7 linked regions of the Homo sapiens genome follow. The protein of the gene in region 2 purifies or fractionates together with the protein of the main gene of each other region. This does not show direct contact. Each region holds a gene or a part of one and is shown on either strand. Other genes may lie near its edges. The genes, in order: CAPZA2, NEK2, ANAPC1, DTD1, PPP1R12A, ANAPC7 and TMOD3.

Region 1 (3,500 bases), on a different chromosome or scaffold from region 2:
TAAAACTATAAAACAATCCTACTCCAAGCATATATTTTAACCATATGGTACAACTATTAATACTTCAAATGAGTTGACTATACAGACAATGACATTACTCTCATCCAGTGCAGATCAGATTTTCTCCCAATATAACTTCCAGCTACTGGTGAAAAAAAATGCAACCTCTAAAAACACTGTTCAAGTGGGTTTGGTGGGTTTTCTGCTTTGAGAACTCTAACAGTTTACAATGTCTGGTATCAGACTCCAGTTCCTCAAAACTACAGAACTTGTGAGAACCTCCAATCAGGGTGGTTACCTGAATGGCTTTGGTCTGGTGCAAATCCTCTTTGGTGTGTCCCCCACCTTGCCTCTGGGCCCACAGTCTTACCTACTTTGACGTATCTGTTTCTTGCTTCTTAAAAACTACATTGACAACTGATTTTAATTGACTTCCAAGTATTTAAAAACATACTTCATTTCCATAAATTTAAATAATACATCCACAATGCATAATGTATAATCTGATATTTTGTGCTTTATTTAAAAAATTTCCCCTTTTCCTTCTCTTGTAATTCTTCCAGTCTTTGACTCCTTAGCTATGTCGGGACTTATCCATCCCTCTGATATATATCATGCTAACAACACAGGATATACCTTTCTAAATTTTTTTTCATAGTCATAAAATCTTACAGATAAAGATATACACATGTCTATACTTGCATACACACAGAATTTTTTGGTCATTATTTTACTACACTTGATCTTAGCCAAAAGGCCGAGAAGCGACTGGTCATTATTTTATAAGAATGCAATGAAAATGTGTGTGTGTACGTACACACACACACACACACACACACACACACACACACACTCTTCTCTGCATCTGGCTTCTTTCAATATAAACATCCTATGGAAATCCCTCAAAGTCAAGTGATATATTTCTCACCATTCTTTTAAATGGCTGCATAATGTCCCATGACGTGATTATAACATAATTTAGTCTGCCAATCCACTACTGATGTGCCATCTCTTTATTTCTGGGCTGTTTCCTTTTTCGGGGAAAGGAGGAACACATTAAAAATGGTGAAATAAGACTGGGTGTGGTAGCTCATGCCTGTAATCCTAGTGCTTTGGGAGGCCAAGGGGGCAGGATAGCTTCAGCTCAGGAGGTTGAGACCAGCCCGGGCAACATAGTAAGACCTCATCTCTACAAAAAAATTTTTTAAAATTAGTCAGTCGTGGTGGCATGTGCCTGTAGTCCCAGCTACTCAGCCCAGGAGATTGAGGCTGCAGCGAGCTGTGATTGTGTCACTGCACTCCAGCCTGGGTGACAGAGCAGGACCCTGACTCAATAACAACAACAAAAAAGGTGAAATGAGTATTGCTGTACATATATTTTAACATACTGATGTTTTTATTTCCATTGGATCCTTTTATTTCTATTGAATAAATTCCCAAGCAGTGGTGGTAGGGACATCAGGTATTATAATTTTTAATATATACTCCTGTGACAATCCAAATTTCTACACATATATGAGAGTATGTTTCCATCCATATTACCACCAATGATAGGCACTATAGCTCTTTTTTTAGTCTGATGGTAGAAAATATATCATTTTAATTCCACTGACTACTGATAAAACTAAGTATGGCTTTTCACATTTGTGGGTCATTTGCTCTTCTGTGAGCAAATATAATAAAATATTTTTATCTGGTGTCTTTTTCTTATCAATTTATAAGAGTTCTTTAAGATAGGCTTCATTCTACAGTTAAAAACATTTATAGTAAAATGTCCATCTTTTATACTTCCTGGGTATCCAGTGTTATTTAAGATGGTCTCCCTAGCCCTGTATTGCACATGTAGACTCAGATTTTCTTCTAAAATGTTAGCCACTTTTCACATTTTAAAACCACCTGAAATCTATTTCTGTATACTGTATGTGACAGAGGTCCAACTTAATTTTCTTCTTATAGAAACCAGTTATGCCAATATCTGTATAAAATTTTTCATATATTCTGAGACTAAATTCTGGTTCTCCATGCTGCTCTAATGATTTTTTGTCTACTCCATACACCACCACATTGACTTAACATTGGCTGTAAAACAACTTGTACTATCTGGTAAGGCAATTCTCCCTCATTGTGCTTAATGGTTTTTTCATAAATATATACATATATATATATACACACATACACACACACACACACACACACACACACACATTTCTTCGTTATTTCAAGCATGTTTTTTTTTCCACATAAACTTTATGAAAATATTGACCAATTAAAAAAAAACTGATCAGGATTCTAATTCAAATTTCATCAAATCCATACATTACTTTTAAAATAATTTAATTTTCTATCTAAGAATGGAATGTAGAGCACCTTTCCATTGGTCAGATCCTGTTTTATGTGTTTCAAGAAGAGTATCACTATTTTCTTTCTTAACAGTTCAGGGGTACATGTGCAGGTTTATTATATAGGTAAACTTGTGTCATGCAGGTGTTGCACAGATTATTTCATCACCCAGGTATTAAGCCTAGTACCCATTAGTTATTTTTCCTGATCCTCTCCCTCCTCCCACCCTTCATCCTCTGATAGGTCCCAGTGTGTTTTGTTCCCCTCTATGTGTCATGTGTTCTCATCATTATCTCCCACTAATAAGTGAGAACATGTGATATTTGATTTTCTGCTAAGATATTTTATTAGTCTGCTAAGAATAATGGCCTTCAGCTCCATCCATGTTCTTGCAAAGGACATAAAGCTTGTTCTTTTTCACGGCTGCATAGTATTCTATGGTGTATATATGCCACATTTTCTTCACCTAGTCTATCATCACTGATATTTAGATTGATTCCACGTCTTTGCTATTGTGAATAGTGCTGTAATGAACATATGTGAGCATGTTTCTTTATAATAGAATGATTTCTGTTCCTTTGGGTATATAACCAGTAATGGGATTGCTGGGTCAAATGGTAATTCCGTTTTTAGATCTCTGAGGAATCGCCACACTGTCTTCTATAATAGTTGAATATACACTCCCACCAACAGTGTATAAGCATTCCTTTTGCTCCGTAACCTCACCAGCATCTGTTATTTTTTGACTTTCTAATAATAGCCATTCTGATTGGTTTGAAATGGTATCTCATTGTGGTTCTGATTTGCATTTTTCTAATTATCAGTGATGGTGATCTTTTTTCTCATATGCTTGTTTGGCCTCAAGTATGTCTGCTTTGGAAAAGTGTCTGTTCATATCCTTTGCCCACTTTTTAATGCGCTTGTTTTTATCTTTTAAATTTAAGTTCTTTATAGATGCTGGATTTAAACCTTTGTCAGAGGCATAATTTGCAAAATTTGTCTCCCATTCTGTAGGTTGTCTGTTTACTCTGTTGATAGTATCCTTTGCTGTGCAGAAGCTCTTTAATTATATCCCATGTGTCAGTTTTTGCTTTTGTTGCTTGAGAAGACCGTCACTATTTTCTTCATAATCGTATGCCTTTTTTTGATGAAGCTTATTC
Region 2 (3,500 bases):
GACAGTGTGGAATCTATGAAAAGCCAGAATAAATATTTTTATAATATTGAAATGGTAGACTGCAATATTGGGAAAAAAGAAGGTATTTTAACAGAGATGAAGCCAAAGTTTCATATAATCCTTGTTTCATTTACTTCTATCAGTAGTTTCATTTCTTTCCATCACTTATTCACTACAAAGTTATTGTGATCATCAATCTAACTTAAGTAGGGTTTTTTGTCTGTTCCATTTACAAAATGCTGCCAATGCTCACTAAATTGATCACACTACATCTCAATTTATTAAAGATGGGAATAATAGCTTTCATATATGCTGTCCTACATGGAATAAGGGAGTTATAAAAACTCTAAATTTTATTGAAAATTCAGATGCTCGATTTTTGAAACCAACAACTTTTAACAGTTAGTTTGTGTCATAAATCAAGCAAAAAGATGTTTCACAGTTTGCATTTTACATAATCTTAAAGAGTCGATTAAATTAGATTGAGGGTTTCTATAAAATGGAGAATGTTAGACAATGGTTCACTGGTATATACGATAACCACATCTCAGTGCGGCAGAGTGAAGGGACAATGCCACACAAAGGCAGGGCCCTGAGAAAGCTGAATATCTATATACCAGACTTTAAATAAAGAAGGAAATGCAGAGAACATATGTAGATATTAAACAATCAAATTTCAACAAATATGTCTTTCAACTTGAAAGGGTGTTAGCAAAGATCCAAACGTGACAGCCTATTCTGCAGGTGGCTTATCATGCCTTTTAAGCCATGCTTTCTATGAAAAATGAGGCATGGCAATATTAAAATGTTTATTTTTACTTGAAATGCAGTTTATCTCTCTGAAATCTGAAACATACAATAGTTTTGTAAATGCCCTAATTTTTAAAAATAAGTATCGGCTGGGCACGGTGTCTCATGCCTGTAATCCCAGCACATTGGGAGGCCGAGGCAGGCGGATCACGAGGTCAGGAAATCGAGACCATCCTGGCTAACACGGTGAAACCCCGTCTCTACTAAAAATACAAAAATTAGCCGGGCTTGGTGGCGGGTGTCTGTAGTCCCAGCTACTTGGGAGGCTGAGGCAGAAGAATGGCGTGAACCCGGGAGGCAGAGCTTGCAGTGAGCCGAGATTGTGCCACTGCACTCCAGCCTGGGCTACAGAGTGAGACTCCATCTCAAAAAAAATAAAAAAATAAATAATGATAATAAAAATAAGTATCAATTACTAAACATGTAGTTTGATAAGGTAAAGAAAATCAAACATGAAATTCTATGACTCATTGCCTCAGGTCTATGAACCCAGGAAATAAATCATTGCTATAACAGAATTTTGTTTCCATTGAAATGCATATATTCAATGAAATCCATCTTAAAATTTGAGATTTGTAAATGAAAAGGGCTACCTAAGCCACTTTGGGAGCAACACTGGTGCACATTTCTTCATTTGTAGCACCAGCTTCTGTTGACCAAGTTGATTCTCATACCTGGATTACTTGCCAGAGACAGGAACTTCCGTTCCTTTAGCAAGCTGTAGTTCTTCAACAGATTTTCTGCTCTAGCCAGTTTGTCCTCTGCTAGTCTCTCACGAACACAAAGCTCCTGTTCTTTCTCTTTAAAAAGAGAATGGACAAAGAAAAAAAAATTAACAACTGACCTTGACTAAAAAACAATTTACATTTGGCAATCTTATCACTACTAGCATGCCTGATACTGATAAGCAATGTTTGGGGAAAGGATTCTCACTATGCCTCAGTCAACCTGATTATGTTAGTTTTTAATTGAGTGTTTTAGTAGGCTGTATGTTATCTTAGATTTTCTTGAAAGGACTTGTTTAAACAAATACAAAGTTAGCTTCAACCTTTGGTCATCTTTTGTGGGAGTAACTCATTTGGGAAAACAAAAAACTAAAGCTATCTCTGCTCTTCACTGAAGATAAGCAACAGCTAATTTTCAGGGCATGATCTGGCCTCACAGTACAAAAATCTCCTTCTTCTGGTTGAATGACCACACCCAAACAAAAGAAAAAAAACACAATTCAGTTAGGTGGTAGTTCATAGGATTAGTATTAATAACAAATGTTACTATTTATTCATGGCCCCAAATTCAGAAAGTATTCAGATTTCAGTTGCTATATGAAATTATGGCTGGTCACAGTGGCTCACGCCTGTAATCCCAACACTTTGGGAGGCCGAGGCAGGTGGATCACCTGATGTCAGGAGTTCAAGACCAGCCAGGTCAACATGGCAAAACCCCATCTCTACTAAAAAATCAAAAATTAGCCAGGCATGGTGGCAGGCGCCTGTAATCCCAGCTACTCAGGAGGCTGAGGCAGGAGAATTGCTTGAACCCGGGAGGTAGAGGTTGCAATGAACCAAGATGGTGCCACTGCACTTCAGCCTGGGCAACAAGAGTGAAATTCCATCTCAAAAAAAAAAAAGAAAAGAAATTATGAAACACTGGGGAAAGTTATAAGAAAAAGCTTTCTTATTTTTTACAGAGGTTTCCAAGTAAGTATAGGTTGTACCTATACAGTAAGCATATCTCACAGGACTATACAATATTTCATTATTTAAAGCCTGGATTGGGCATAAAGCTGCAGAAGTAAAATCAGGTGAGTCATGAGGGTGACAGGTCACAAATACGACCCCATCTCTCGTCTCCTGATGTTAAAATGAAGAACCTCACTCTGTAGCTACCTTGCATAACCCTAAATGCTTGCGAGTAGCTCTCATCTTGGTGGAGTAGACACACTTTCAATATCAAAACTAAATTAGCATCTAATCAGTTAATACTCATAAGTCAATGTTAATACCCACCAGAGTATTATTTATAGACTTAAAATATCTTGTATCTAGATTCTCTATTGAACTGCCTGAACAGACCAGGTGTGGTAGGTCACACCTATAATCCCAGCACTTTGGGAGGTAAGATGGGAGGATCACTTGAGCTCAGGAGTTCAAGACCAGCCTGGGTAATATAGTGAGACCCCATCTCATTTTCAAAAATAAAAAGTTAAAAAAAAAGAAAAGAATTGCCTGAACATATCTCATCTACATACTGTAGGGTTTTAGACCTGGAATTCTGTTGGAGTGGCCATTTCAAAAGACAAAAGTCATGGTTTTTTATTATGGAAAGCAGCAATTTTAAGACCTTCCTTTACAGTGGGAAAACATTAGGGTATTCACAGTAGAGACGAAAAAGAAAAAAGTAACTCTAGAGTAAAATACAAGGCTATCGTATTAGGGCCATCACAGTTAAGGCCCAATAATATATAACTAGCAACTGATCTCAGAGAAAGATGTCCAACATGAAGGTGCCAGCAAGCCTGATTATTAAAAAGTCTAAAATACATATTTTGGTTTCTCAAGTATTTTTCAAAAGCTTCTAATAAGATCTGTATGTATAAAATATTCTGCTCAAAGAGATATTCAGACACATCAAAATAACCCACTTGGTAGTTCTCCTTTGCTTTGACCCCCATTCAGACTTACGCTCCAATC
Region 3 (3,500 bases), on a different chromosome or scaffold from region 2:
TCCCGCCTCACCCTCCCGAGTAGCTGGGACTGCAGTTGCCCGCCACCACACCCGGCTAATTTTGTTTTTATATTTTTAGTAGAGCTGGGGTTTCACTGTGTTAGCCAGGATGGTCTCGATCTCCTGACCTTGTGATCTACCCACCCACCTCGGCCTCCCAAAGTGCTGGGATTACAGGCGTGAGCCATCATGCCCAGCCAAGCTTGATAATTATTAAAACTGGCTGATGGGGATTCATTATCCTATTCTGTTTACTTTGTATTTATTTGAAATTTTCCATTATAAAAAGTTTATAGTCTACATTCTGGTTTCTTTAAAAAAGTCACGGAGAAAGAAAAAAAGGTGGGGACTGTTCTACATTGAAAGAGACTAAAGAGACATCACCAAATGCAGTATTTTTTGATCCTTGTTAAATGAACTTTGATTGAGTCCTGGTTTTCTAGCTAAAAAGATATTTTTGGGGAAAATTTGGGAAAGTTGAAAATTACTGGCCAGTAGCTGATGTTAGAGAAGTATTATTTTTTTCTCAGGGACGATGATTTTATGGTTTTATAGGAGAACATCTTTATTTTTAGAAAAGGCATGGTGAAGTATTTAGGGGTGAAATGTCATGATGTGTGTGCAATTTATTTTTAAACAGTCAGCATTCCCATTCCGAAAATCCCATATGTACACAAATGCACACACACAAACAAATATGGCAAAATTTTCATGATTGTTGGATATAGGTGAAATATGTTTGCTGCATTATTTCAACTTTTCTTACTGAAAATTTTTATAACAAAAAGTTGGAGGAAGAACTAATGCATTTATTGTAGTTGAATTAGGGTTGACGAGGTTTTGGAGGCTTTGACTAATGTTAAGTTTCATTTTTGTAAATGCTGAAATCTTTGTATCTGGATACTGCTTCCTCCCACTCCTCCCGCCTACCGTTAACTATTTCCTGATGAGTACTGTATTCTATTTATTGGAAAGGATAAACTGAATCATTATTCCAACATTTGAGGGCATATGTGAAAGCATTTGTGTCCTGGAGTGTTGAAGCCAGTGATCTTTTTGATGGTAAATTTTTTCCCATATAATTCATATAGTTAGTATAGATGTGAAAAGTGCATTTGATGATATCCAAGTAGTTCTTTGCTTCTATATCTTCATCTTAATTTCTCCAAGAACAGTTGCCTATTTACTAGATTCTATGGAAGTGCAGTTAGATATATTATCTCCTTTATCTTAAGATCACTTGTAAGTGTAATTGTAAGATTTGGAATTTCAGTCTTTTGATCTGGAAAATATATTGTTACTTAATCTTCTTGCTAATATGGAGAAAGATAATTTTCTATTTTGTTTATGAAATAATATCAGGTATATGTGACTCAGATTTTATCTGTTCATTGTTTTACCTATCCTGCAAGTATTTTTTTTTTGGTTGTTCTTTTTATTTTTTCATTTATTCTTTTTGTTTTTTAATAGAGATGGGGGTCTCACTATGTTGTCCAGGCTGGTCTTGAACCCCTGGGCTCTAGTGATCCTCCTGGCTTGGCCTCCTAAAGTGTTGAGATTACAGGCGTGAGCCACTGTGCCTGGTCTTCTGCAAGTATTTAGTCTCACTCTGTTTCAGCCATTATGCTGGGGCTACAAAGGTGAATGTAGTTTCTGCCATTGAAGGACTCATAGCCTAGAAAGGAGAACAAACAGATCACCTGAAATGCTGTATTCTGAATGCTGTATAATAACTACCTGTCCACAGAGTGATGAGAGCCCAAAGGACTGAGTGCCAAAGGGAGGGTTTTTCAAAGAAGATGCTATTTGTGTTATAAAATGGTGGCAGAAGGGCATTCTAGGCAGAGGAAATCACAGCAAAAAGAATTATGGAAAAAGATGACTTTTTAAACTTCAGAATGGCTGTACACGAAGTGTGGGTGTGGAGAGATGCAAGTGGATGCTGGCAGTATACAGACCAAAGGGCCTTGTATATAAACCAAGGAATTTGGATTTTAAACTGTGTGCTGAAGGGAGCCTGCCAAGGATTTTAAAATGGAAGCGATCAATTTTGTGTTTTGAGAAGAGATTGCTTTGTTAGCAATATATATATAGGATTGACTGGAGAGGAGGGAGACTGTTGTCAGGGGCACTATTTTGTGACTGTTCAGGTAAAAGATTGGTGCCTTGGCAAAGAAGGGGTGATAAAGCAGAGGGAGATGTGGAAGGGGTTAGTGATCTCTTAGATATCAGGGATAAAAGAGATGTTAAAATATTTACTTTTAGAGGCTGAGAGGATGGGATTTCATCAAAGGAAGTTGAGACTGTAATCGGTGCATTGTAGATTTTGGACATTTCAGGTTGGAGCACAGCTCTCATGCATGGTTTTCTTCCTGAATTTTCATTTCTTAACCATTAAAATCTCCCACAACTCAACAATAAAACAAACTACCCAATTAAAAAATTGGGCAGAAGGACTTAAATGGACATTTTTCTAAAGATGCACACATGGTCAGTAAGCACATGAAAAGATGCTCAGCTTCGCTAATCATTAGGCAAATGCAGATTACAACCACAATGAGATACCACTTTACTAGGTTGGCTGTTATTAAAGAAACATAACAAATGTTGGTGAGGATGTCCAGAAATTGGAACTCCTGTGCATTGCTGATGGGAATGTAACATAGCTGCTGTGGAAAAGTTTGGCGATTTCTCAAAAAGTTACACGTGTAGCCAGGCATGGTGGTGCATGCCTGTACTCCCAAGCTGTTCAGGAGACTGAGGCAGGGGGGTCATGTGAACCCAGGAGTTCTAGGCTGCTGCGAGCTAGAATCATGCCTTGCATTGCAGTTTGGGTGACAGAGTGAGACCCCATCTCTTGAAAGAAAAGTTATACTTAGAATTACCATTATGATCCAGCAGTTCCAGTTCTAGGTATATGCACAATTGAATTGAGAACAGGGATTCACAGATACTTGTACACCAGTGTTTTCAGCAGCATTATTTATGATAGCCAAAAGGTAGAAACAACCCATGTCCATTGACAGATGAATGGATAAACAAATGTGGTATATGCTAACAGTGGAATATTGTTTAGCTTTAAAAAGGGATAAAATTCTGATACATGTCATAACATGGATGAACCTTGAAAACATTATGTTAAGTGAAATAAAATAGATATAAAAGGACAAATGTACAGTTTCACTTACATGAGATACCTAGCACAGGCCCTTTCATAGGGAAAGTGGAATAGAGGTTACCAGAGCTCAGGGCATTGGGAAATGGGGAGTATTGTTTAATGGGCACGGAGTTTCTGTTTGAGATGAGGAAAAAGTTCTGGAAATGTGCAGTATTGTACAAGCTCACAAATTGTACTAAGCTCGTCAATTTAATGTTAATGCTACTGAATTGTCTACTTAAAAATTGTTAAAATGTTAATTTTCATATTGTGTGTATTTGACCACAGTTTAAAAAAAAACACAAAATGCTGTTAAATAATAAGTGATTGCCAGGTATGTCAG
Region 4 (3,500 bases), on a different chromosome or scaffold from region 2:
AACTGCACGTTCTGCACATGTACCCCAGAACTTAAAGTATACTAATAATTTTTTTACAAAAAAAGACAAAATGTTGGGAGAAAAGAACTGTCAAGCTAGGATTCCATGCCCAGCTAAGCAATCATAAAGAATTAAGGCAAAATAAAAACATTTTAAAACCTACAATGACTATGTTCCACTAACACATTCTTAGTAAACAACTGATATATCATAGAATGTACTTCAGAAAGAAGAGCCCAAAGAAGGAAGCAAGACAGGTTGGTGACCACAGAAATTGATAAAATATATTATCAAATACAGCCAGTTACAGATTATAAATAAATTATGATTAAAAGTGATTATGATTATGATGAAAAGAAAAGTGGCAACATGGATGAACCTTGAAAACATTATGCTAAGTGAAAGAAGCCAGGAACAAAACCACACATTATATAATTCCATTTACATAAAATGTTCAGAATAGACAAATCTAAAGAGACGGAAAGTAGATTAATGGCTGCCTAGGACTGGGGCAACAAAGAAGAGAGTGGGAGTAGGCTAGTACTGTTGATGAGTACAGGATTTCTTTTAAGTGGGACAAAAGTGTTATAAAATTAGATTGTGGCAATGGTTGCACAACTCTTAACTAAAAAAATTGACTTGTACACTTTAAATAGGTGAATTGTACAGTATGTGTATTATATCTTAATAAAGTCATTTTAAAAAGTGGAACTAGAAAGGAAAAGGGGATGTTCAAATATACTAAGATCCTTATAAATTTTGATAGAAATTTTTGTAACTATTCATGAATGTTAAAAACTTAGAAATAACCATTAGGAGAACAAAAACACCATCTATAGCTCCTTCTCTCTATACACACACACACACACACACACACACACACACACACACACACACACTTTCTCTCATCTACTAAAAGAGAGAGTCTATGAGACTAGGTCAAAAAAGCTTATTGAGAAGCCAGAACAGAAAAAGAAACAAAATCATAAAAATAAAATAAAAAATATTCTGTATGATACTGTAATGGTAGACACATGTCATTATAAATTTGCCCAAACCCAGAGAATATTAGAGTGAACCCTAGTGCCAACAGGAGACTGTGGGTGATAATGATGTGCCATGAACAACAGTTATAATCCAACAATGAACTTAGGTTCATCAGTTGTAACAAATGCACCACTCTAGTGGTGGATGTTGATAATGAGTGAGCCTATGCATGCGGGGGCAGAGATATATGGAATATCTCTGTACCATCCTCTCAATTTTACTGTGAACCTAAAACTGCTCTAATCAAATAAAGCCTTTATTTAGAAAAAAAAAAAAGAGAATGTAAACTACCTCATCATTGTTTATAACGACTACATAGTAAAATCATATTTTGAATATATTCAGTTAAATAAAATATATTTTTTAAATTAATTTCACCTATTTCTTTTTATTTTTTTAAATATGGCTACAAGAACTTAAAATGACATATTTGGCTCACATTTGAGGCTTGCACTATACTTCTATTGGACAGGGCTAAGCTAAACAATCAAAGAAATACCACTGTATTAGCCACACCTCTGGGTTCCCAAACATTTTCAAAATGTGAACAGAAGAAGGGAGGAGGGCAAATGCCAGCAGAAGCATTCTGAGGACATGTGTTAAGTACAACAGCAGCAATAGCAGCAGCTAGTATGTGGTTCTAAGTAAGTAACAAGCATAAACAATGACTTTCCAGAAAAGGAGATGCTGCAGTTGCAGCTTCTTTTTTCTCTCCATCCAGGAGTGTCCCAAAGACCCGTTCCTGGATGTGGCTCTCCTGCTTACCTTTGATAAGCTCCGGCCTGTATGTTTTACGCAGCTGCTCCAGGAAGCTGTTGTAGAAGCCCTCTGCCTGCTCCGTGGGCATTGCTAGGTGGAAATCAGGCTTGTTTCCCTTCAGGACACACTGGAGGGTAAACTGGCTGACACACAGAATCTCGTACTGTTTGTCCATCACACTCTTCGACCAGTGCTTCCCACTCTCATCCTCAAATACACGCAGGTTTAGAATCTTTCGGACCCTAAGGGGAAAAAGAGCAGTGAGAGCTACCTGAGAGATCACAAGCCCCCCAACACACTCCATACCCCAAAAATGTCACCAGCTTCCGGTCAAATAAGGACATAATGATGACTCCATCCCTGACAGGAGGCATGACCTCAGGCAAGTCACTTATCCACCCTGTGCTTCAGTGTCCTCAGCTGCGATACAGAATAATAACAGTTCTACCTCACACGGTTGTTTTGAGATTGCTTCTTTTTTGCCAGTCGCTCCAGTTCATAGCAGCTACTGGTGAGAACTGGGGCTAAGATGACAACCACCTATTCTCTGCTCCTTTAGGTCGGGGATATGTCAAAACATGGGTCCAATTGTAATTTTTCATGAACGAATTCATCATGTTAGGATAAATGACATCCATTTTTAAACCCCTTCTTGGAGCTACTCAAAATGAACAATTCGGCTGAGAACGGTGGCTCATGCCTGAAATCCCAGTACTTTGGGAGGCCACAGTGGGTGGATCACCTGAGTTCAGGAGTTCAAGACCAGCCTAGCCAACATAGAGAAACCCCATCTCTACTACTAAAACTACAAAAGTTAGCCAGGCATGGTGGCGGGCGCCTTTAATCCCAGCTACTCAGGAGGCTTAGGCACAAAAATCGCTTGAACCAGGGAGGCAGAGATTGCAGTAAGCTAAGATTGCACCACTGCACTCCAGCCTGGGTGACAGAGGGAGACTCTGTCTCAAAAGAAAAAAAAAAGAAAGAACAATTCAGCAAATACACTGAGAGAAAAATCATGGTTATTGCAAATATGCAAAAAGATCTGGAGAAAGACACCTTGAAAACTATGTCACAAGCTCCTTAAGCCCCAGAGGGGCTTTCCCTATACATGTGAAGAAGGATAGTCACCATGGCAAGAAAGTTGACCAGGTGACATCTATAGGGTCAGATTTGAGAAGCACAGCAGAGAACCACCAGCATGAAAGCTGAAATCTCACCATTTGAGAGCCACCCTTCTGGATGATGTTAAGTAGATGACAGTTTCAAAGACTCTATAAATACTAATTAACTGACTCTTAATATGGGCACCCTCAGGGACAGGTGCTACTCATTACCCCCTCTCCACAGCCAAGATTTGTCTTATGTTGAATCACATCTCTTAAGCACCAGGCTAAGTATTAGCTCTGTAGTATGTCAGAGCCATAAAGACATTCAAACCCACAGCCTCAGTTTTTAGCCATTACACCACTCTACCACTTCTTTGAGTATCCAGAGGACAGCTACTAAAATACCACCATCACTGAAATAGTATTGAATGATAGTTATCCATCATCAACACCTTAGCAGGAATTCAGTTTCAAGTCTGATTTTCAATCTAACACAAAAGAATCAGTTGGGCAGGGTTATACCCAAGCTCTGAGCACCAAGGGGCAGAATAAATGGATCCAGCATCTAAAGTAAATGTGCCCCGTGGT
Region 5 (3,500 bases), on a different chromosome or scaffold from region 2:
ATGTTCTGGAGCTGAAACTCCAACAGAAAAGCTCTAGAAGTGTTCCATGCAAGAATATAAATATTCAAATAAGTTTATAACCATCTAAAACAATTTTGAAGGCTAATAAAATATATATAATTTGGGATGTTTATTACAAGTAAAGGTTGAGTGCATACGTGTACGTGTGTGTGTGTGTGTGTGTAACAGTCCATGAAAATATACTTTCCCACATGGTTATTAATCTTTAAGAGGGTGCCAAGTGACATCTCACAAAATGTATTCTCCTCTGCACTATGCAGTATTCAAGAAAATGACATGAGCTTTGTACAATCTTATGATTTTATTGTTAGAGGTCATGTTAAACTAAGAAAATAGTAATTTCAGCTCAAATGTGAGTTAAATCATCAAGTTAAAGTAAAGCTTTTTATTAAGTGAAGCTCTCTCTGCAGAATATCTCACTTAATATACATAACATTTAAATAGACTACTAAAAAAGTGACAGCTGAGGAATGCTTTCACTTCTTTCCATGGTTTCTACTGAATGTCATTTCAGAAATGCCTATACAACACATGACAATGTGGAATGTCTCCTCCCATGAAAGAGCATTTGAGTTGAGCAGCAAGCACACTTAGGGCAGTAACACAGAACTCAAGCGTGTCTTTTTATGGTTAGCCAGCATAACAATGCAAAGATAAACAACCAAAACACTAATAAGGTCAGAAAATACTGACATAGAGGGAGCCATAGTAAAAATGTTATTTGGAAAAAAAAAGTATCAGTAAAATAACAGAAAATATGCATTATTTCTAATATTACCATGCTAGAGATTTCTTTTCTTTTTCTTTCTTTTCTTTTCTCTTTATTGGTAGAGACACCGTCTCCCTATATTGCCCAGGCTGGTCTTGAACTTCTGGGATCAAGTCTCTTGCCTTGGCTTCTCAAAGTGCTGGGATTACAGGTGTGAGCCACTGCATCCAGCCTAGAGATTACTTTTCTAAATGAACACTCAAGGATTTGTTTAAAGAATTTTTAAACTAAGTTACATAAACTGAAGCGTCTATTGATAATCAGTAATAGATCTCATTTCAAAAATAAATCTAACATCCCAATAATTTTTTTCTTTAAGACAGAATCTCGCTCTGTCGCCCAGGCTGGAGTGAAGAGGCATGATCTCAGTTCACTCCAACCTCTGCCTCTTGGGTTCAGGCGATTCTCGTGCCTCAGCCTCCTGAGTAGCTGGGATTACAGGCATGCGCCACCATGCCTGGCTAATTTTTATTTTGTATTTTTAGTAGAGATGGGGTTTTGCCATGTTGGCCAGGTTGATCTCAAATTCCTGAGCTCAGGTGATCCGCCTGCCTAGGCCTCCCAAAGTGCTAGGACTACAGGCGTGAGCCACCATACCCAGCCACCTAATAAATGTTTTGATTGTAATAATGGCTACCTTTACATTGTAAGTATTATAAAAGTAAGTGGTTGATATAAGCTTTTTTATTAGGACATTTTAAAAGTTTGTCAGTGTGTTACACTTACCCAATTATTTAATATTCTATGAATTCTGCTCTTCAAAATATTAGTTTACATTGTGTCCAATTTTTTTTAATCATTAAATATTTATTGTGTACCTACTAAAACAAAATGCCGATACAAAAGGAGATTTAAAGAAAAAAAGAATCAAAGTCCCTACCTTAAGGGTATATAAGGGACTTCTTCCCCCCCACCCCCAGTATCCATGGTATGAAGTTTCCTACAATTTGTCTCTAAAAAGAATCAAATATGTACATGTACGTATGTATAAAAAATTTACTGTAAATGATTAAAAAAAACTAAAACAGGCTAAGTGCAGTGGCTCACGCCTGTAATCCCAGCACTTTGGGAGGCTGAGGTGGGAGGATCACTTGGGCCCAGAAGTTTGAGACTAGCTTGGGCAACACGGGGAGACTCTGTCAAAGAAAAAAAAAAATTAGCTGGAAGTGGTGGCACATGCCTGTATTCCCAGCTGATCGGGAGGCTGAGGTGGGAGGATCACTTGAGCCCAGGAAGGCTACAGTGAACTATGTTCATGCCACTGCACTCCAGCCATGGTGACAGAGTCTGTCACCCTGTCTCAAAACACACATACACACACCACACCCACACACACACCCAACAACTGAAACGATATAAATTGCTATTAGGGTAAAGAAAAATAAAGGTAGTTAAAAATTAAATTCTATGTCCTGAAAAAAGGAGTGTTTCTTGTTGCTGCTGATATATTCTGCACATAATGGTAAGTCAAAAATAATCTTGGCACTTCCTAAAATTTAGGACAATTTCGAATTCTGAGATTAATTTAGATACAGTACTACTGCACTTCAATTACCATAGAAAGGTCTTAAAAGTATGGGCTAGCTAAAACAAATGTGGATGAAGAAAAAAATTATATGTGTGTTTCACTTGATTTTCAGCTAATTTACAGAGAAACCTCCAATTACTAAACACCACCATAATGATGAAAAGATTTAAGAATATTTTCTTCTTCAGACTTCAAAGAAGATACCTGGCATAGGGTAAAGTTTGAGTTTCGGCATCAAACAGACCTGCATAAGAATTCCAGCTCTGCCATTTATTTTCTTGTTAACTTTGAGCAAGTGAAAAAGCATGTTGTGAAAATTAAACTATTGTTTGGAAAAGCACTGCTCCTCAATAAAACACTGATTAAGTCATGGCTACTACATATCTGACTCCAACTGAGAATAAACTTATAATTGTTGGAGTTCTTCAACCTTTCAAAGAGGTATACCAAAATGCCAATACCTCATCATCTTCTCAACCTTATTGTGGAGCCCCACAAACTTTCAAAAGAAGGGTGGAGTAAAAGATGGCAATTTTTTGCAGGCAGAGGCAATGAAAATAGCAACTTCATATAGTGTCAAGAAGTAACATGTTATGGTAGTAACAAAACAACGTTTTATGCCTCCCCCTATTAAAAGGTTTTTAAATAGTTTTCTTTTAAAAATCATCTAATAAGATTTTTAAAACACTTTTCTTATGTGAACTGTAATTTTTAAATGTGGTAATAACAAATGGATGATGAAAAACACTTCCTCTATTCCATCCAGTGTTTCTACCTGGCTATAGAAAATGCTCAGTCACAGCTTGCAATCATACTGTAGCTGAGGCACATGAAAGATGGTCTTGGTTATGACACCTCAAAGTCAGACCACAAAAGTGTTGCCAGGAAGCACAGAGGCAGCAACTACAGAAAAAGCATTAGAACAGCAGCAGTGTGGGCACTGGTGCCCTACCAGCACACCCCATATATGGCTAGGGTTGCCCACTTATTTGTAGGAAGTGAGGGGCCAGTTTGGGGTTGGGAGGGTTTTATTTGTTTGTTTAGGTAGGTTTTTAAAAATGGATTTAGGATGATTTCAATAAAAACTTTTGAAAGGCATGAGCATAAAGTGTTACAGCTTTTCTAAAAAGAAAACTATGCAGAGAAATATTTTACACTGCACATTCTTTTAGACACAAATTT
Region 6 (3,500 bases), on a different chromosome or scaffold from region 2:
AATTTGAACTCATCTTCCTGTTAAGAGCAAATCACTCCTAGACTCCTAGGTTTATTTTTAAATGCTTATAAAAATATGTTTTGGAGGAACTGCATCTTGTAAGATCTATTTTAATGTCTGTGACTGAGTCACCAAACGTTGCTGAAACTGGCACAGCTCCTTTGAACTCCCAGGGTCAATTCACATGAACTTAAAATATTACATAACAAAACAAAGTTGGACCCTGATTGTGCCCACTCTGGAGGTCACAATGAACAGACCCATTCCCACAGCCAACACTATCATATGGATGTGGAGTTATCCCACGAGTACTAACTCTGGCCCAAGGTAAGATGGCCACGAAAAAGAATAGGCCTAACAGGCCATGTACAGTGGTTCACGTCTGTAATCCCAGCACTTTAGGAGGCTGAATTGGGCAGATCACTTAAGCCCAGGAGTTCGGGACCAGCCTGGCTAACATGGCGAAACCCCATCTCTACTAAAAATACAAAAATGAGCTGGGTGTGGTGGTGTATGCCTGTAATCCCAGCTACTCAGGAGGCTGAAGCAGGAGAATCACTTAAACCCGGCAAGTGGAGGTTGCAGTGAGCTGAGATTGCACCACTGCACTCCAGCCTGGGTGACAGAGTGAGACTCTATCTCAAATAAAAATAAAAAAAATAGGCCGGTTGTGGTGGCTCATGCCTGTAATCCCAGAACTTTGGGAGGCCAAGGCAGGCAGCTCACGAGGTCAGGAGTTCGAGACCAGCCTGGCCAACATGGTGAAACTCCATCTCACTAAAAAATACAAAAATTAGCTGGGTGTGGTGGTGGGCGCCTATAATCCCAGCTACTTGGGAGGCTGAGGCAGGAGAATGGTTTGAACCCGGAAGGTGGAGGTTGCAATGAGCCAAGATCATGCCACTGCACTCCAGCCTGGGTGACAGGGCGAGACTCTGTCTCAAAAAAAAAAAAAAAAAACAGGACCCGGGCACGGTGGCTCACGCCTGTAATCCTAGCACTTTGGGAGGCCGAGGCGGGCGGATCACGAGGTCAGAAGATTGAGACCATCCTGGCTAGCACGGTGAAACACTGTCTCTACTAAAAATACAAAAAATTAGCCAGGTGTAATCCTAGCTACTGGGGAGGCTGAGGCAGGAGAATGGCATTAACCCGGGAGGTGGAGCCTGCAGTGAGCCGAGATCATGCCACTGCACTCCAGCCTGGGCAACAAAGCGAGACTCTGTCTCAAAAAAAAGAGGAGTAAGAGAAAAAAAATAGGCAAACTAAGTGATCTTGCATGGTGTCTGACACAGAGAGATTCATATTAATGAGTACGCCACACTGGATGGGGGCGAGCGGTGGGAGGACAAAAAAAAAAAACCCCATCCCAACTATACCCTCACCAAAAACCAGAAAAAAAATCAGAAAAAATGGATTATGAAAGTATGGGGTGACAAATCCAGTGAAAGCCCTAAATAAATGTAAAATGCCTAATGCAGTGGTTCCCAAACCTGTCTGCACATTGGTAACCCCTGGGGACCTCCAAAAATATCGATGTCTATTCCCAATTCCATGTATTTCCATCTACACTGGAGAGACCCAACGTCAGGATATTGAAAAGCTTCCCCGGATGATGTTTTTTTGTTGTTGTTGTTGTTGTTTTAATAGATGGAGTCTTGCTCTGTCGCCAGGCTGGAGTGCAGTGGCGCAATCTTGGCTCACTGCAACCTCCGCCTCCCAGGTTCAAGTGATTATCCTGCTTCAGCCTCCCAAGTAGCTGGGACTACAGGTGTGAGCCACCATGCCCAGCTAATTTTTGTATTTTTAGTAGAGACGGGGTTTCACCACGTTGGCCAGGATGGTCTCAATCTCTTGACCTCATGATCTGCCCGTCTCGGCCTCCCAAAGTGCTGAGATTACAGGTGTGAGCCACCACGTCCGGCCAGCTTCCCCAGATTATTCTAACAGAGTTTGGGAAGTGCTGGCCTAATGAAACCTTCCATCTGAGGGCTGCTGCCACACCCACGGATTCACACCATTCACCTATGTTTTCTTTCTTACCTTCATAACAATCTAAGCGACAAGGTGCGAGCCGTATGGCCTCCCGAAAGTGGATTATTGCTTCTTGGACTCTGCCCATGTTCCTAAGTGCTGCTCCCTTAAGTAGCAGAGCTTGAACACTATTACTGTTCAGCTGAATGGCCTTGGCTCCTAAATAGAGGGCCCGGGAGTAGCGTTTGCTATAGAAGCTGTGACAGCTGGAGAAAAAAAAAAAAAAAAAAACACAAAAACCCCAGAAGTTATCCAAGAGAAGACTACAAAGAAAGTTGATCCAAAAATCATATTGAAGGCCCTGAACATAATCCTTATTCCAAACCACACTTATAGTTTTAACCTAAGATATTAGTAGAAAAGCAAAACAAACCAAAAAATCCACTATTTATTTTTAAGGGGAAATCTTGATATGGAAGAGAAAAATTATGAAAAAGAACCTATGATCTGGATATTAGTTATTAGCAGAGAGGCATTCAGAGAATTTGTAAAGCCAGGTTAATAAACAAAGGAGCATCTTCTGGCCCCATCACTGATGGCTCAGTACTAAGCACAATGCATTCACCAACTCAGTTAATGCTTAACCCTAGAAGGAGAGGTTATTAGCCCATTTTCCAAATGAGAATACAGACCTAGATAGGTAAATAATGCATCCAGAGTCATAAACTATTATTTGAATCCAGGGCTGATTATCCTTTTAAAAAAAAAAAAAAAAAAAAATATATATATATATATATATATATATATATATATTTATAGAGACAGGGTCTTGCTACATTGCCCATGCTGGTCTCAAATTTCTGGCCTCAAGTAATTACCTCTTTTTATTTTTATTTATTTATTTTTGAGACAAAATCTCACTCTGCCGCCCACCTGGAGTGCAGTGGCACGATCTTGGCTCACTGCAACCTCTGCCTCCTGGGTTCAAGCAATCCACCTGTCTCAGTCTCCCAAAGTGTTGAGATTACAGGCATGAGCCACCATGCCTGTCCAGGTGATTACCTCTTAAACCTGTGCTTTCAATTTATATTCTCTTCAAGAGCAACCATTATCTCTTAATCTACTGACAACTGGGGAGAAAAGAGAATGCATAATCATACCCAGAAACCACCCACGGTTCTGCATGCTGATCAGAGATATTGAAAAGGCGGCATCCAAGGTTCTCAACATCCTCTAGCCGCCCTTCTCGTGCCAGTAGGTAGCCATATACATCCATTCCTAGAAGAGAAGGACATAGTGAGAAGAGGTGTTTTAAGAAGAGAAGCAGGGGTCCCACATACAGGAGTAGCACCCAACATCAGACCCCATGCTGAGGCCCCAGCTCCTGCAGGGGCTAAGCCCTTTCCACCATCACAGGCTCCTCCAACTACTATTTCCAGTTTCCTACAAAGTGACTATTAAAATGCAAAACCCAGGTTGGGCACAGTGGCTCACACCTGTAATTCCAGCACTTTAAGAAGCCGAGG
Region 7 (3,500 bases), on a different chromosome or scaffold from region 2:
AAGACCCTGTCTCAAAAACTAAAACAAAAGAGAAAATCAATTATATCTGAGCAATATCACAGGGAGGATGAGAGGCTTTGCGGATAAAAGTATACCTGGATAGAGGGAGGGAGAAAGATAAAGAGGAGGATCCAGTAAACAGTAGAGGAAAAAAAGGCTTTTAGTAAGGTTTTCTGGTGTCAGTCTGATGTATACTGATATTTAGGCTGTGTTGTAGCTGGCAAACTACTCTTCACACTTTTCAGTTGCTCTTTAATATGCATGAGCTCTCTCGATTAGAGTAGATGAGGAGGGCATTATTCTCTAGGCCGTGTGGCTAAAGCGCTATCATCCCTTGGTCATTGATAGTCCTTGCTGACATTTGATTTACATGCAGTTTTATGTCAGATCCTTTAAAATCACAAATATATGGAGAGAAAAATGGTATAGACAATAGAATATTCTACTGGGCCTATAACTGGTCCATTAAGTGCTTATTTAAATTGTAAACAATCAAATTTAATTTGGTGTTTATAAAAAATTATGTATGTGAACATACATTCTGTTATCTATATGTGTCTGTAATCCATTAGCTTATTTACAATGATCAAAGAATAGAAGTGTGAATAAATCAGAATGGCACATGATTGAAAATGCTGTGTAACTGAAGATGCATTTGTGTAGTCTTGAATTTCATTTGAAACAAAATTGTTAGTCTGTATCTTGAAGCACATTGCTACTTTGTATTTTTATTGATGTATAATTAACATTCAATAAAATGCACATAATATCCAGTTCAAGGAGTTCTGACAATTGTATACACTGTAACTTCTACCAAAATCAGATAGAAAACATTTTTTTTAAGTCACCCTAGAAAGTTCCCTCACCCACCTTCCTCCAAAGGCAATCACTTCCTGACTCCATAGATTTCTGACACTACAGAGATTTTTTGACTGGTCTTGGACTTCACATAAATGGAATCATACAGCATGTGCTTTTTTTGTGTTTGGCTTCTTTCATGTAAGAAAGATTCATCTATGTTGTTGGCAAGTATCAGTGGTTTGTCCTTTTAAGTTGTTGAATAGTATTCCATTGTATGAATGTACCCCAATTTATATTTTCTCCTTGATGGATATTTGGAATAAGATTGTTATGAACATACTTTTACAAGTTTCTTGATAAATACCTAGGAGCAGAGTTACTGAGTCATAGGGTATGTGTATGTTTAACTTTATTAAAAATCTGCCAAACAGTTCTCCAAAGTGGTTTATACTGAGTTCTACTTGCTCCGTATTTTTAGTGTTGCCAATGTTTAGTATTGTCAGCCTTTTCAATTTTAGTCACACTACAGGATGTATGGTTGTACCTCATTATGGTTTTAATTTACATTTTTCTGATGATTAAGAATGTTGAGTGCTTTATCATATGTTAATTGGCTATGCAGTATCTTTTTTTGTGAATTGTTTGTTCAAGTCTTACCTAGTCTTTCATTGGGTCATTCATCTTTTTATTGTTTGTAGGAGCTCTTTATATATTCAAGGTACAAGTTCTTTGTCACATATAGAGATAGATGTGTTGACAGTTTTTTTTTATACAGTCTGTCCCTTGTCTACTTTCTCAATGATATTGTGATGAGCAGAAATTTTTAATTTTTATAAAGTCTGTTTTATCAATTTTTTGTATTATGGCTAGTGTTTTTTGTCCTGACCAATAAATTTTTACCAGTGCCCAGGATTGCAAAGAAAGCTTTTTCTTCTAGAAACTTTATTTTTCTAAGTTTTTCATTTGAGTCTGTGATTGATCTCAAAGTAATTATTATTGTGTTATGATATAAGATAGGAGTTTGGGTTCATTTTCCACCTATATAGATATCTAGTTGTTCCAGCAACATAGGTTTAAGAAAAACTTCCCTTTCTCGGCCAGGCACAGTGGCTCACACCTGTAATCCCAGCGCTTTGGGAGACCAAGGCAGGCAGATCATTTGAGCCCAGGAGTTTGAGACCAGTCTGGGCAACATGACAAAACCACATTTCTACTAAAAATACAAAAATTAGCCGGAAGTACTGGCATGCACCTATAATCCCAGCTACTTGGGGGGCTGAGGCAGGAGGATCATCTGAGGGAGGTGGAGGCTACAGTGAGTTGTTATCATGCCACTGCACTCCAGCCTGAGGGCCAGAGTAAGACCCTGTCTCAAGACAAAACAGAACACATCTCTTTTTTGTTTGTTTTTCTCCATTAGATTGACTTGGCATCTTAGCGTGTCAGCTGAGCTACTTTGCATTTTAGTTGTGCTTATATTGTCAGTTTCTTAAGCACGGACCCTGACCTTAAAAATTAAATGTTTATGCTCCTCTTCCAGATTGGGACTTGACTGAGATTGATCCAGGGCTAGTTACCATGTATTTCCTGATGGAAGAATGTTAAGTATGAATTTGAATTTTAAATGGCTTTTCTGTGGGTCGAGTTAATGGAGACAACCTCATTTTAGAAGCAATTGCATCTTCCTTATAAAATAGGCAGATGTTTAGAATGAAGGAGATGTAAGCAAGGAAAGATCACCTAGGACTCCAACATAGCAAGCTATAGGGAGCTTAATATTTCTTGTTTATTGGCTTGATCTAAATAGATGCAATTATATATAAGCCATGTGTTTTAGTTTCCATCTTTTTCTGTTTTGTTTTGTTTTGAGACAAGGTCTCAATTTGTCACCCAGTTTGGAGTGCAGTAGTGTGATCTTGGCTCACTGCAGCCTCGACCTCCTGGGCTCAAGCAGTCCGTCAGCCTCAGCCTCTCAAGTATTAATAGCTGGGACTACAGGCATGCACCACCATAACTGGCTAATTTTTGTATGTTTAGTAGAGATGGAGTTTCATCATGTTTCCCAGGCTGTCCTTGAACTCCTGAGCTCAAGCAAACTGCTCACCTTGGCATCCCAAAGTGCTGGGATTACAGGCGTGAGCCACCACACCCAGCCTTAGTTTCCATGTTTCTACTCCATTGTCTATTCCAATCCTTTGTGATGCAATTTCTGAATTTGCCTTGGAACAATTTTTAGGGAGACAGTTTGGTTATTTTTTTCTTCTAAGTTTATTTGCTGATAATACACTAAGTTTTAAAAAGAATGTCACCCCAACCTCATTATTCTTATGTAGCTATTTTTACTTTTCCTCATTTCTTTCCAGGCCTGATTCATTCTCATACGTATTTTTATATGATTGTAATCATAGTGTGCATATTGTTTTTTGTTCAGAGATTGAGTTGTAACTAGTGAATGCTGTCTCCCTTAGGTAGATCACCCTTGTTAGTAAAGACAAAGATTAGAGATGGAGAAAAGACAACTGGGGACTTACCAGTGAGGAGTCTTGAATCCTAAAGCTTAACTAAAATAGAAGCAGAAAAAAGCTAAGATTTTCAAAGACAGGATTACCTTTCTGTGGAAATGCAGGACAACTTTGGTTTCCTTATTCATTCCTTCCCCCTTTCTCTAACATATAACAGCTTTAGTGAGATATAATTCG

Evidence for each region.
Region 1: the proteins of NEK2 (region 2) and CAPZA2 purify together in Homo sapiens (affinity purification with mass spectrometry, with the first as the bait; one large-scale study listed by BioGRID). This does not show direct contact.
Region 3: the proteins of NEK2 (region 2) and ANAPC1 purify together in Homo sapiens (affinity purification with mass spectrometry; 3 studies listed by BioGRID and IntAct, with this or other methods). This does not show direct contact.
Region 4: the proteins of NEK2 (region 2) and DTD1 purify together in Homo sapiens (affinity purification with mass spectrometry; 2 studies listed by BioGRID and IntAct, with this or other methods). This does not show direct contact.
Region 5: the proteins of NEK2 (region 2) and PPP1R12A purify together in Homo sapiens (affinity purification with mass spectrometry, with the first as the bait; one large-scale study listed by BioGRID). This does not show direct contact.
Region 6: the proteins of NEK2 (region 2) and ANAPC7 purify together in Homo sapiens (affinity purification with mass spectrometry; 3 studies listed by BioGRID and IntAct, with this or other methods). This does not show direct contact.
Region 7: the proteins of NEK2 (region 2) and TMOD3 purify together in Homo sapiens (affinity purification with mass spectrometry, with the first as the bait; one large-scale study listed by BioGRID). This does not show direct contact.

The regions. Positions count from the first base shown.
Region 1 is NC_000007.14:116,900,587-116,904,086, reverse strand, and holds part of CAPZA2 (F-actin-capping protein subunit alpha-2), read right to left. Parts: intron 770-3,500; exon of another isoform or gene 644-769; intron 1-643. UniProt on the Homo sapiens protein: F-actin-capping proteins bind in a Ca(2+)-independent manner to the fast growing ends of actin filaments (barbed end) thereby blocking the exchange of subunits at these ends.
Region 2 is NC_000001.11:211,665,622-211,669,121, forward strand, and holds part of NEK2 (serine/threonine-protein kinase Nek2), read right to left. Parts: coding exon 3,492-3,500; intron 1,611-3,491; coding exon 1,485-1,610; coding exon of another isoform or gene 1,441-1,484; exon of another isoform or gene 796-1,440; intron 1-795. UniProt on the Homo sapiens protein: Protein kinase which is involved in the control of centrosome separation and bipolar spindle formation in mitotic cells and chromatin condensation in meiotic cells.
Region 3 is NC_000002.12:111,874,194-111,877,693, reverse strand, and holds part of ANAPC1 (anaphase-promoting complex subunit 1), read left to right. Parts: intron 1-3,500. UniProt on the Homo sapiens protein: Component of the anaphase promoting complex/cyclosome (APC/C), a cell cycle-regulated E3 ubiquitin ligase that controls progression through mitosis and the G1 phase of the cell cycle.
Region 4 is NC_000020.11:18,594,554-18,598,053, reverse strand, and holds part of DTD1 (D-aminoacyl-tRNA deacylase 1), read right to left. Parts: intron 2,049-3,500; coding exon 1,813-2,048; intron 1-1,812. UniProt on the Homo sapiens protein: Possible ATPase involved in DNA replication, may facilitate loading of CDC45 onto pre-replication complexes. An aminoacyl-tRNA editing enzyme that deacylates mischarged D-aminoacyl-tRNAs.
Region 5 is NC_000012.12:79,925,098-79,928,597, forward strand, and holds part of PPP1R12A (protein phosphatase 1 regulatory subunit 12A), read right to left. Parts: intron 1-3,500. UniProt on the Homo sapiens protein: Key regulator of protein phosphatase 1C (PPP1C). Mediates binding to myosin. As part of the PPP1C complex, involved in dephosphorylation of PLK1. Capable of inhibiting HIF1AN-dependent suppression of HIF1A activity.
Region 6 is NC_000012.12:110,379,709-110,383,208, forward strand, and holds part of ANAPC7 (anaphase-promoting complex subunit 7), read right to left. Parts: intron 3,253-3,500; coding exon 3,135-3,252; intron 2,241-3,134; coding exon 2,044-2,240; intron 1-2,043. UniProt on the Homo sapiens protein: Component of the anaphase promoting complex/cyclosome (APC/C), a cell cycle-regulated E3 ubiquitin ligase that controls progression through mitosis and the G1 phase of the cell cycle.
Region 7 is NC_000015.10:51,832,653-51,836,152, forward strand, and holds part of TMOD3 (tropomodulin-3), read left to right. Parts: intron 1-3,500. UniProt on the Homo sapiens protein: Blocks the elongation and depolymerization of the actin filaments at the pointed end. The Tmod/TM complex contributes to the formation of the short actin protofilament, which in turn defines the geometry of the membrane skeleton.